2 linked regions of the Homo sapiens genome follow. The protein of the gene in region 1 interacts with the protein of each later gene in a pairwise test. Each region holds a gene or a part of one and is shown in the gene's direction. Other genes may lie near its edges.

What was found. Proteins that work in one complex are often made in the same cells at the same time.
Region 2: the proteins of PLSCR2 (region 1) and TMEM132D interact in a two-hybrid assay, tested with the Homo sapiens proteins (one large-scale study listed by BioGRID).

The regions. Positions count from the first base shown.
Region 1 is NC_000003.12:146,448,478-146,452,958, reverse strand, and holds part of PLSCR2 (phospholipid scramblase 2), read left to right. Parts: intron 1-3,591; coding exon 3,592-3,753; intron 3,754-4,481. UniProt on the Homo sapiens protein: May catalyze calcium-induced ATP-independent rapid bidirectional and non-specific movement of phospholipids (lipid scrambling or lipid flip-flop) between the inner and outer leaflet of the plasma membrane.
Region 2 is NC_000012.12:129,900,707-129,905,906, reverse strand, and holds the start of TMEM132D (transmembrane protein 132D precursor), read left to right. Parts: upstream 1-1,881; 5' UTR 1,882-2,567; coding exon 2,568-2,646; intron 2,647-5,200. UniProt on the Homo sapiens protein: Regulate neuronals morphology via inhibition of the WAVE regulatory complex (WCR), a complex that controls F-actin cytoskeletal dynamics.

The DNA.
Region 1 (4,481 bases):
ATGTGTATATAAAATATATGATAATATGCATTGGATATATACACATGTGTGTGGGTATATATGGGTGTGTGGGTATGTGAGTGTGTAATATGTATGTATAGGAACTTTATGTAGGGATATGTATAATAATAGTTTTCTTTTCATGCCCATAAAAATCCAGACAAGTGAAAGATTATTTCTCCTTCTAGGAATGATATTAATAAAAGTCTAATTGGAATATAATTTATTCCTAAGAAATGAGTAAATCACTAAAAAATTGTGAAACATTCTTAATACTAAAAATTTAGATTTCATTCAGTAGCTCTTCAATTCTCTATGTCTGCAGACACCAGATTCTAAGAGTAACTAATAGTCATACGATTAGAGAATGCAGGAAAATAATGCATATAGCAAATTTTATACAAATGCTGAGTTTGTAATTTAAAAATACCTTTTCAGTAACCATTCATAAATTATATGTTTTGAATTATATAGTGCTCCTCTAGTATCTTACACATTATTTTAATATATTCTTTTGATGTTTACCTAGGTTCTATGTGCTAGTGGCCTATTTGCATTTTTTGCATTTATATTTACACTGCAAATAAATATTTAGTTTTTTAGACTATCTTTACCAATTATTAGTATTAAATTTACAGATTTATAAATTTCATGCTAATATAATACACTACAATTCTTTTTTTTTACTCATACTTCTGATACCAAATGTGTGGATATTTTTTCTCCATGTCAACCAATTCTCCTTCTCTACAGACATCAACTGGGTTCCCTACAACTCAGTTCAATTCTGACACTCACTCACCTGTAGATAATGCAGACACCACAGTTTAAGGTCTCAGTCCCACAAAACTGTTCCCAATTTCAAATTCCAACCACAAATGCAAGACCTCCTGTACGTCTAACCAACTAGCTATAAAGCAGGATTCACACAACCTCCTCCATGGGTTTGACAATTTGTTAAAACTACTTACAAAATTTAGGAACATATTTTATTTATGTTTACTGATTTATTATAAAGGATACAGATGGATAGCCAGATGAAGAGGTTAGTAGATGAATTCTGGAAGAGTTCTGAGCAAAGGGGGATCTGTCCCTGTGGAACTGGGGTAAGCCACCTTCATGGCAAGTGAGTTCACCAATCCAGAAAGCCTTTGAACCTGTTGTTTAGAGTTCTTAGGAAGTTGCATTATGTAGGCATGACTGATTTAAACCACTGGCTATTGGTGAATAACTCAAACTCTGGCCTTACTCTCATCTCCGGAGGATGGGGACAGGACTGAATGATTCAATCCTCTAAGCATTGCTTGGTTTTTCTGGTGTCCAGCCTGATACTGAAGCTATCAGGCACCCCAACCACCAACCACCAGTCATCTTAGTATATAAAAGATTTATTGCTTAGAAGAGTCTAAGGATTTTGAAGCTGCGTGCCAGCAATCTGGGACAAAGACCAAATATTAAAACAAGACTCTCCTATTACCCCTATCACTTAGAAAGTTATGAGCATTTTAGAAATTCTGTGTCAGGAAGCAGGGATAAAAACTTAATGTAGGCCGGGCACGGTGGCTTATGTAATCCCAGCACTTTGGGAGGCCGAGGCGGGCGGATCACCTGAAGTCAGGATTTCGAGACCAGCCTGGCCAACATGGTGAAACCCCGTCTCTACTAAAAATACAAAAATTAGCCAGGCGTGGTGGCAGGCGCCTGTAATCCCAGCTACTCGGGAAGCTAAGGCAAGAGAATCCCTTGAACCCGGGAACAGGAGGTTGCAGTGAGCGGAGATCGCGCCGTTGCACTCCAGCCTGGGGGACAAGAGCAAGACTTCGTCTCAAAAAAAAAAAAAAAAAAAAAAAAGAAAACTTAATGTATACTTCTTATGATGTTGTAAATACCAACGTATTATTTCCAGAGGTTGAAGTAATTTTACCATATTTTTTTGTTTTGTTTTTAAAATGTTATATAGAATTTAGCTAAAATTATCTATACTTTATAAATTTTTTTTATAAAAATTATCTAGACTTTATAATGATCTGTATATGCATGTCATTATTTATATTTCTGATCCTCCATTAAAATTTTATTTTCTACTTCTTGCATAAATTTGGTGAATTTTTTAATTTCTTGCTATAGCCATCAAAATGGAGAAATATTTGTTAAGTCTAGTAGTAGGTTTATGGTAGCTAGTAAGTTACCTTCAGCATTTTTTATTTTGTAAATATTTCAAAATTTGAATGATTTTTAAAATAAAAATATAAAGTTCTCATTAATAGTCTCAAATGCTTAGATGATATATGTTCACTCTGGATATGTAGCAGCAGAGGCTACCTAGACGATGCTTTTCTAGTAGCTATTTACCTGAGACCAAGAGTCAGAGCAAACCACTTACCCATATGTAAGATCACTGCCCATGTTACAGCTGCTAATATTCCATTGGTCAAACAAGCCACAAGGCAAAGCCTAATTATGAAGAAATAGGAAAATGCTTCAGACTACAATGGGAGGAAAAATGAAATGAATATTTGATGAAGAATAATCCATAGCAATCACAGTTTTATATTAGACATTTATTTCACTTTTTAAAAAGAACCTTTTCACCAACACTCTAAAATGAATCAAATGTTTTCAGTTTCCCTACATTTATCTAGATGGTCACAACCAGAGGCAATGGCTTCAAAGGGTGTTGCTGACACATGTGACCTGTATATGTAGGTCATTATTTATATTTCTGATCCTGTGTTCAAATTTGAAAATGACATTCCTGACTTGGGTTGACATAACTCTTAACATGTAGTTTGGTGAATGTTAGTTATATTCCGCCACTACCTGCCCATCTGGTGAGGTGTTTTTGTCTGAGCACACACTTTTCAATGCTATATAATGACCCTCAGTTTTCCTCAGCAGAATTTTTACAACCTTTATTTTTTTTCACAAAAATAGAAAAGTTTTACATTGGAGATCTTGTCTACCTATTCTTTTTTTATTCTTCACACCCCACTAGTTAGCTGGTCTTGCCCACACCCTTGACTTGAGGCATCCCATCAAGTTACTTACTGGTTGCTTTTCTTCACTCAAACTGTCAGTCTTCTTTTCTAGGCTCTTAGCATTTTATGTTTTCCTACTGACAGTGGGTGGTAGTGAGGCCTCTCTTCATATTTAAACATTCAGCTGTGTAAACTCCCTGTGCACCTCTAAAAAGCAGAAGTCTAATAGGAGTTTCATTTGTTTCCTTCCTGATGGCTTCTAGAAATTATATCAAAGAAATACTTCAAATTTATATCCTTTTCTGCTTAAATTTTGTTTGGGTTAAATTCAAATAAATAAAACATATATTAATGTCTATCTTAATATAAAGTAGAAAATGTTAAAAATTTCGTAAAACTACTTTTATGTAAGTTTCCTACACAATAGAACAGTTTTTTATGTATCTATAAATATACAGGAGCCTATATGCATCTAATATAACATATTAACTGTATACTCATGTATGGTGCATAAATGTACTATAATATTTCCTTCCTTTTACTCCAGTGTTAAAAGTAATTTTGCTATAAGTTTTCTAGAAATTTTTAAGTTTTTTTTTTTTTTGCAATTTAGATTACATCTCTTGATGAACAAATTGTGGTTGGCAGGATTTCTAAGCACTGGTCTGGGTTTTTAAGAGAGGCATTTACTGATGCTGACAACTTTGGAATCCAATTCCCTAGAGACCTTGATGTTAAAATGAAAGCCGTGATGATTGGTGCCTGTTTCCTCATTGTAAGTCTATTCCTGCTAATCTTGGTGACAGATGGCTTCTCTAGAATCATTCTGAAATACTTCAATAAATTATACATTTTAAGATTACCATTTAAAGTGTAAAGGTTTTATAAAATGTTCTCATTTAATCCCCGCACTGAAATTCTATTTGATTCTGATACTCTGGATTTATAGGTGGTTAGTTTATGTCTGAAGAGTCTACACACTTTCAAATGGCAAGAGAATAACTTTATATGCTAAGGAGAAGCTCTGGTTTGGGGTAGGGTTATTAAAAAATCAAATATGTTATTAGGAGAAAAATGTGAAGCTAGTCTTACATGGAATAAAACTCAGTGAAACACAGAAATTTCATCCTAACTCATTAAATTAAAACATCTAACATGGGATTATAAAGTGCAATAAGAGTATACATTCAATCAAGCCTCTAGAGCTAACTATCAATTTACAGGAAATACATGGGGTAAAGCAGTGATTCTGAATGTATATTTATATTAGAATTATCTAGAAACTTTTTTAAAACCCTCAAGTATCAGGCCATTCCCCACTTCAACTAAACAAGAAGCTCAGAGTCAGAAGTTTGTGTAGTGCCCCAGATGATACGAACATGCAGCCAAAGTTGAGGTTTATGGAAACAGAGAAATGGTCTTCAACCTTAGCTACACAGTAGAAACACCTGGGTAACTTTCAAACTCCTCATGTCCATCCAAATTTATTAAACCAAAATCTCT
Region 2 (5,200 bases), on another chromosome or scaffold:
AAACCGTTTAACATTTTAGGCAGCAGCTGGAACTTGACAGTCACCTTTTGTCTTCACATTACAGATAGAGAAACCTTCTGCAATGGCAAAAAGAAAAGTTATTTGATGATTGCAATTCAGGGGAAAAACTCAATTTGATTTAGAGAAACATAAAATGATTGTTTTTAATAAAGAACAGGGACCACTTGTTTCTAGTCAATATGTCTGAGAAATGTCTTACAAATAGACTCAGTGTCACAAATAGATGATTTACAAATAGACTCAGACCCACTGTAGCGTTAAGGATGGAACCTGGATTATGCATTCAGTGCGGGCATCAATTTTGACACTCAGAGACCAGGTGAAGGTGTCCAAGAGACGAAAGCTCAGCTCTCTCATCACTCAGGTGAAGGAGAAAGGGGACCAGTGGTTCCAGCACGTGTTCCGCAGGCCGGCAGCATCAGCATCACCTGGAACTTTTTAGGAACGGAGATCGGAAGTCCCACCTTGACCTGCCGAGATAGCTCTGGGGTGGGCCCAGCAACCCAGGTCTAACAAATTTTCCAGTGACTCTCCTGCTGGTTCAAACTTCAGAAACAGTGAAAGAGACAATCTCTTAGGGTCTTTGCAGCGTCGACTCTTAGGAATTTTACAGGAGAGCAATACAAAGAGAAAAGGCAACAAGTTTAAGAAACAAACAAAAGAAAAAACAGAAAGACAGATATATTCAGATAAGTAGATACAGAATAAAAGACAAGAGCACATCTCAAAGGACATGAACCCAGAAAAACAATCTTCGGTAGAACAGCAGTGGCTTTTTTGATCTTCCTTGAAACTTTGAAAGCTAAAAACTCTTAAAGCATTGGTATATTTCTGCAACTACAGGCATACAGGATAAAAAAGTCCATTGCCCCCTCAGTCAGATGATAACGACCCATTTTTATCTACTGAGGTGAATTCACCTCATTAGATTCAGGGCTTGTTGGTTTACAATATTCCTTAAAAATTCTGAATGCTTTTCTTCCCTCTGAGCTTTGATGGGGTTAATTTAAAGGCTCTCGTGGAGCAAAGCAGTTCTTGGGCTACAAATTACAGGACGGTGCTTAGGGATCTTGGTGTGGGAATGTCTTAGTTGGAGATTCCGGGCGGTGTTGAGAATCATGTCTTTTATCTTCTCAAAGCAATGTTGTCTCCTAATGGATCCATTTCCTTTCCCAGTGAGCCCTGGGGAGCACACGACATGTTTCTAGGGACACTAACTTGGGGGATCGCTCTGGGAAGGGGCTTGGGGCCAGCATGACCTCAGTGTGGCGTGTCAGAGACTTCCTCACTGCGATCCCTGGGAGATGCGCAGGGCGGGGCGAGGGCCCTTCTCCAGCCATCCTTGCGCTCTCCCTGGCGAAGAGCCTCAGGTGCCCCCGGGCTGGAGGACCTCCCCTGGGCCTGAGGTTTTGATGACGACGAGAGGCCGGTGGCCAGCTGGACACCTGTTGGGAGAGTGGGTGGCTCCGTCCCCGGGGTGCGCCCGCGCTGGGAGCCCTCGCCCGCCGCCACCGCGCGTCCGCGCTCGCAGGGAGGGTGGCCGGGAGGCTGGGCGTGGGGCGGCCAGGGGGAGGTGGGATTTACTTTGCGGATTGGGGCTCACAGCTGTCACTCCGAAAGGGTGGGGCTTTTTAAAAGCAGACAAATTTTTAAGGCGAAAGCCCCAGCCGGCTCCGGGCACCGTGGCGATCGCCTCCGTTCCGTTCCGGATGCGGTCCTTGCGGAGCGGAGCCCCCGCGCCTGCTGGCAGGAGGCAGCTGCGTTGCTCGGCCGCGTCCCCGAGCCGGCGGGCCCTCCTCCGCGCACATCTGGCCCGCCTCCCCCGGGCGCAGGGGGGAGCCCCGCGTCTCCGGAGCCTGCAGTGCGCTCGGCGCGCGTAGAGCCCCGCGAGCCCCAGCCGGGCCCGGGGCCGGGCGGGCCGAGGCGGCGGCCGGGGAGCAGCCGCACCCGCCAAACTTTGGGTGCCGGAGCGCGCGCGCGCCCGAGCCCCGAGGCGCAGCGGCCGGCCTGGGATGGGGGCTGCGGGCCAGGGAGCCCCGGGCCGCCCAGCGAGCCCGGCCACCCGCCCGGGGGGCTCCGAGCCGCCTCTGCCCGCGTCCCGGGCTCCGCAGCCCCGCCACCCCGGCGCCGCCTGCGCCAGCGCCCGCTAGCCAGCCCGGGAGCAGCTGGAGCCGCCGGAGCCCTGCGCCTGGAGGCGCCCCTCCTTGGGCCACCGGGGGCCACTCTTCGCTCGGGTAAACAGGAAAGGAAATACCCCCTGTGGATTAAAATTTAAAAAAAATTCTGTTGGGGTCGAAGGAGGGAGGTGGGGTTTGCCTGCGCGCGTGTTGGACTCCGGAGAGCAACTCAGGAGCCCGCGCGGTCGTCGCCTCCCGGCCTGGCCATGGACTGGCGGGAAGAGGGAGCAGGGCGCCCGGGCTGCTCGGGCCCCTAGCCGGGCGCTCCCTCGCCACCGGCCCCGCTGCGGGCCTCTAGGGGACTGAGACGGTCTCTTGTTCGCCTGGACGGCGCCGGGGAGCGGAGGATCTGCGCTCCGGGTCTCCAGGATGTGCCCGTCTGAGATGGGGACGCTGTGGCACCACTGGTCGCCGGTACTCATCAGCCTGGCCGCCCTGTTTTCCAAAGGTGAGGACGCCGCGGCCGCCAGGGCCCGGGGACTAACTTCGCCTGGAGTGAGTGTGTGGGAGTGTGTGGAGGATGGGGGCGGCCGGGAGAGAGGGCTCGTGTGCAAGTGTGTGTGCGCGCTTGTGTGCATGTGTGTGTGCGCGCGTGTGAACGTGCGCTCGTGCGGCAGCCAAGCTCCTCGGACGCCCCTTGGCCGAAGGTGCTTGTCCTGGAGCACTTGGGTGGGAGGCCTTAGGTGAGACTACTAAGGAGCCGAAAGGAAAGGAAGGCTGTTTCCTGAAAGCCTTTTCTGTAAAGGGAGAGGGCGTGGGGACCCTTGAGAGGAAAGGTGGCCTCTGGAGGGCCGAGCCGGCTGTCGGGGGAGGAGGGGATTGAGATGACCAGGGAGATTTCTGGAATTTGGGATTGACTTTCCCTGGTGGCACTGACCTATTTGGAAATAATTTTGGAGCACTCCTGTTGTATGGGAATACTATTTTGTGTATTATAGGCTGCCAAAAATATAGCCTGGGGGGCGGCTCTGAAGAAGGGGGATGGGTTTCTCCAGGTCTGCCGCTGTGAGGTTTGGGCACAGGGTCTGGCGCTCACCCTTCCGTAGGGTGCTGGGAGCAGCAGCGGCCCCGCAGGGTGCACGTGGAGTTTCAGCTACAAGTTGTGACCCGAATTTTCCCAGCGGAGCCCTGACTTGAAGCCATGTGTCAAGGCAGGAATTCCTCAATGTTTCCTCTTCTCTTCTGCCAGCATCCCTGTCTGTCATGGGAAGAGCAAGTTTGGAAGCTCTGGACAGTCATTCTTCCTTGAAGAGAAATGGTGTGATTTGTGCGGGAGATTCTTTCTCATGATTGACCTGGGCTGCTTGTGTGTGGTTCCCCCACCCGTGCCCCTTTCCTGCAGATAGATACACTGGGAGGAGAGTGAAGCGTCTCAGCAGTCTCTAATACGTGCTGCAAGAACCCTGTACCCATATTTTTCTGCAAAGATTTTTGAGATGAGATCTCTCTCAGAAACTTCAAAGCCAATTATCACGCACAAAGTCTTTTAATTACATGAATTGTCTGTTCTCTGAGTTCTTCCAGAATCACTGAGGTTATGTTGCTTTGGATCTGATAATAGATGAAGACAGTTGAAATGCCGAGTTCTGTGATGGTTCGATTTAGAAAGAGGAATTTACGTTCCCCCTCCTTCCCTGTCTTTGAAGTGTGGTTGAAATGGGCTCACGTTTCCTAATTATGAGTTAGAACAATCCCTGGGATCAGAGCCTTCTGGATTTATAATGTGCACAGGAAACCAAAGAAAAGGTTGATGAATTCAGTGAACCTGACTCAGGCAGACGTGAGGTTAAAAAAACCAAAATCCACAGCAACAACAGCCCAGCATTTTTTTTTTGGGGCGGGGGGGGTTGGTTCTCACTTGGTTTTATAATAGGTCCAGACTTCTTTGTGTTTATGCTGCAATAACAAGGTTGTATTAAGAAAGGTACAGAATAGCTTTGGAAATAGGACCTCACTATTGTGTTTTTTCACTTAGGTACATAGGTCTGTTACTGATTTCTTTATTAGACTGAGCAGTGTTGAAGAGAATTGTATTTAGCCTAATACTTGTGAACTTTTTCAACTGGGAACACTGAACATGTCCTTAAATGAGGTCCTGTGTGATGTGGAAGCCTCTTTACTAGGTGGCCAAAAATTAGCACGTAAAATGTTTACGATAAGCCTAGCATATGACATATTTTGTGTATTGAACTTAAGCAAGTCAGCCAGACAGTTCAAAAGTGAATCAGTTCTGTGTGGAGACTTTGTACAGCAATTAGCAGAGTCTGAGCACATGGTAGATGATTCAGGATTAGTCACAATATGTCAAAGAACAAGAAAAAAATCAACACCCCTATTAGCAAATTGCATAAAATGGAATTTCATGATGCAGATGTGATTTATACATTCAGGGACAGGGCCATTCTTTTCCCAATGTGTTCATATCACCTCCCTCTAAGATTCTCTGATCACTTGAAAGTTCTCACCCATCTTGCAATCAAGTATGGACTATATTGAAAAGGATTTTAATTGAAAGTAAACACACAGACACACACACATACACACATACCCCAAAGTGCCTCATTTGTCTGGGGCTGATTGAAAAAGAATATTATCAAGTATTAAATATCTGTTTCCACATATTATCATTTCTACTGTATTGTCTTTCCAAATAGGAATTTTTGAATGAAACAAAGGGCAGATTTTAATACCAGGTTAATATGCTTGAGCCTTACACGTTTATATTTCATAAGCAGAAAATGATTAGTTATAGAACAAACCCACCCTCTTGTAGATATTTTTTAAAAACAAATAAACATAAAGTTTTGTTGCTTGTATTTCTATGCCCCTGGGACCTAGGAAGTATGGTATGACACACGGAGTTTCCCCAGCAGCCTTGTCCTATGGCCCCTAATTTTTCTGGGGAATGGCCTTAAATGTTTAAGGTCTAGCTTTGCTGGCAGCTTGATGTAGTTTGCAATGGTGCTAGCCTGCAGATGAGCTTTAATGCATTACTGTGAACT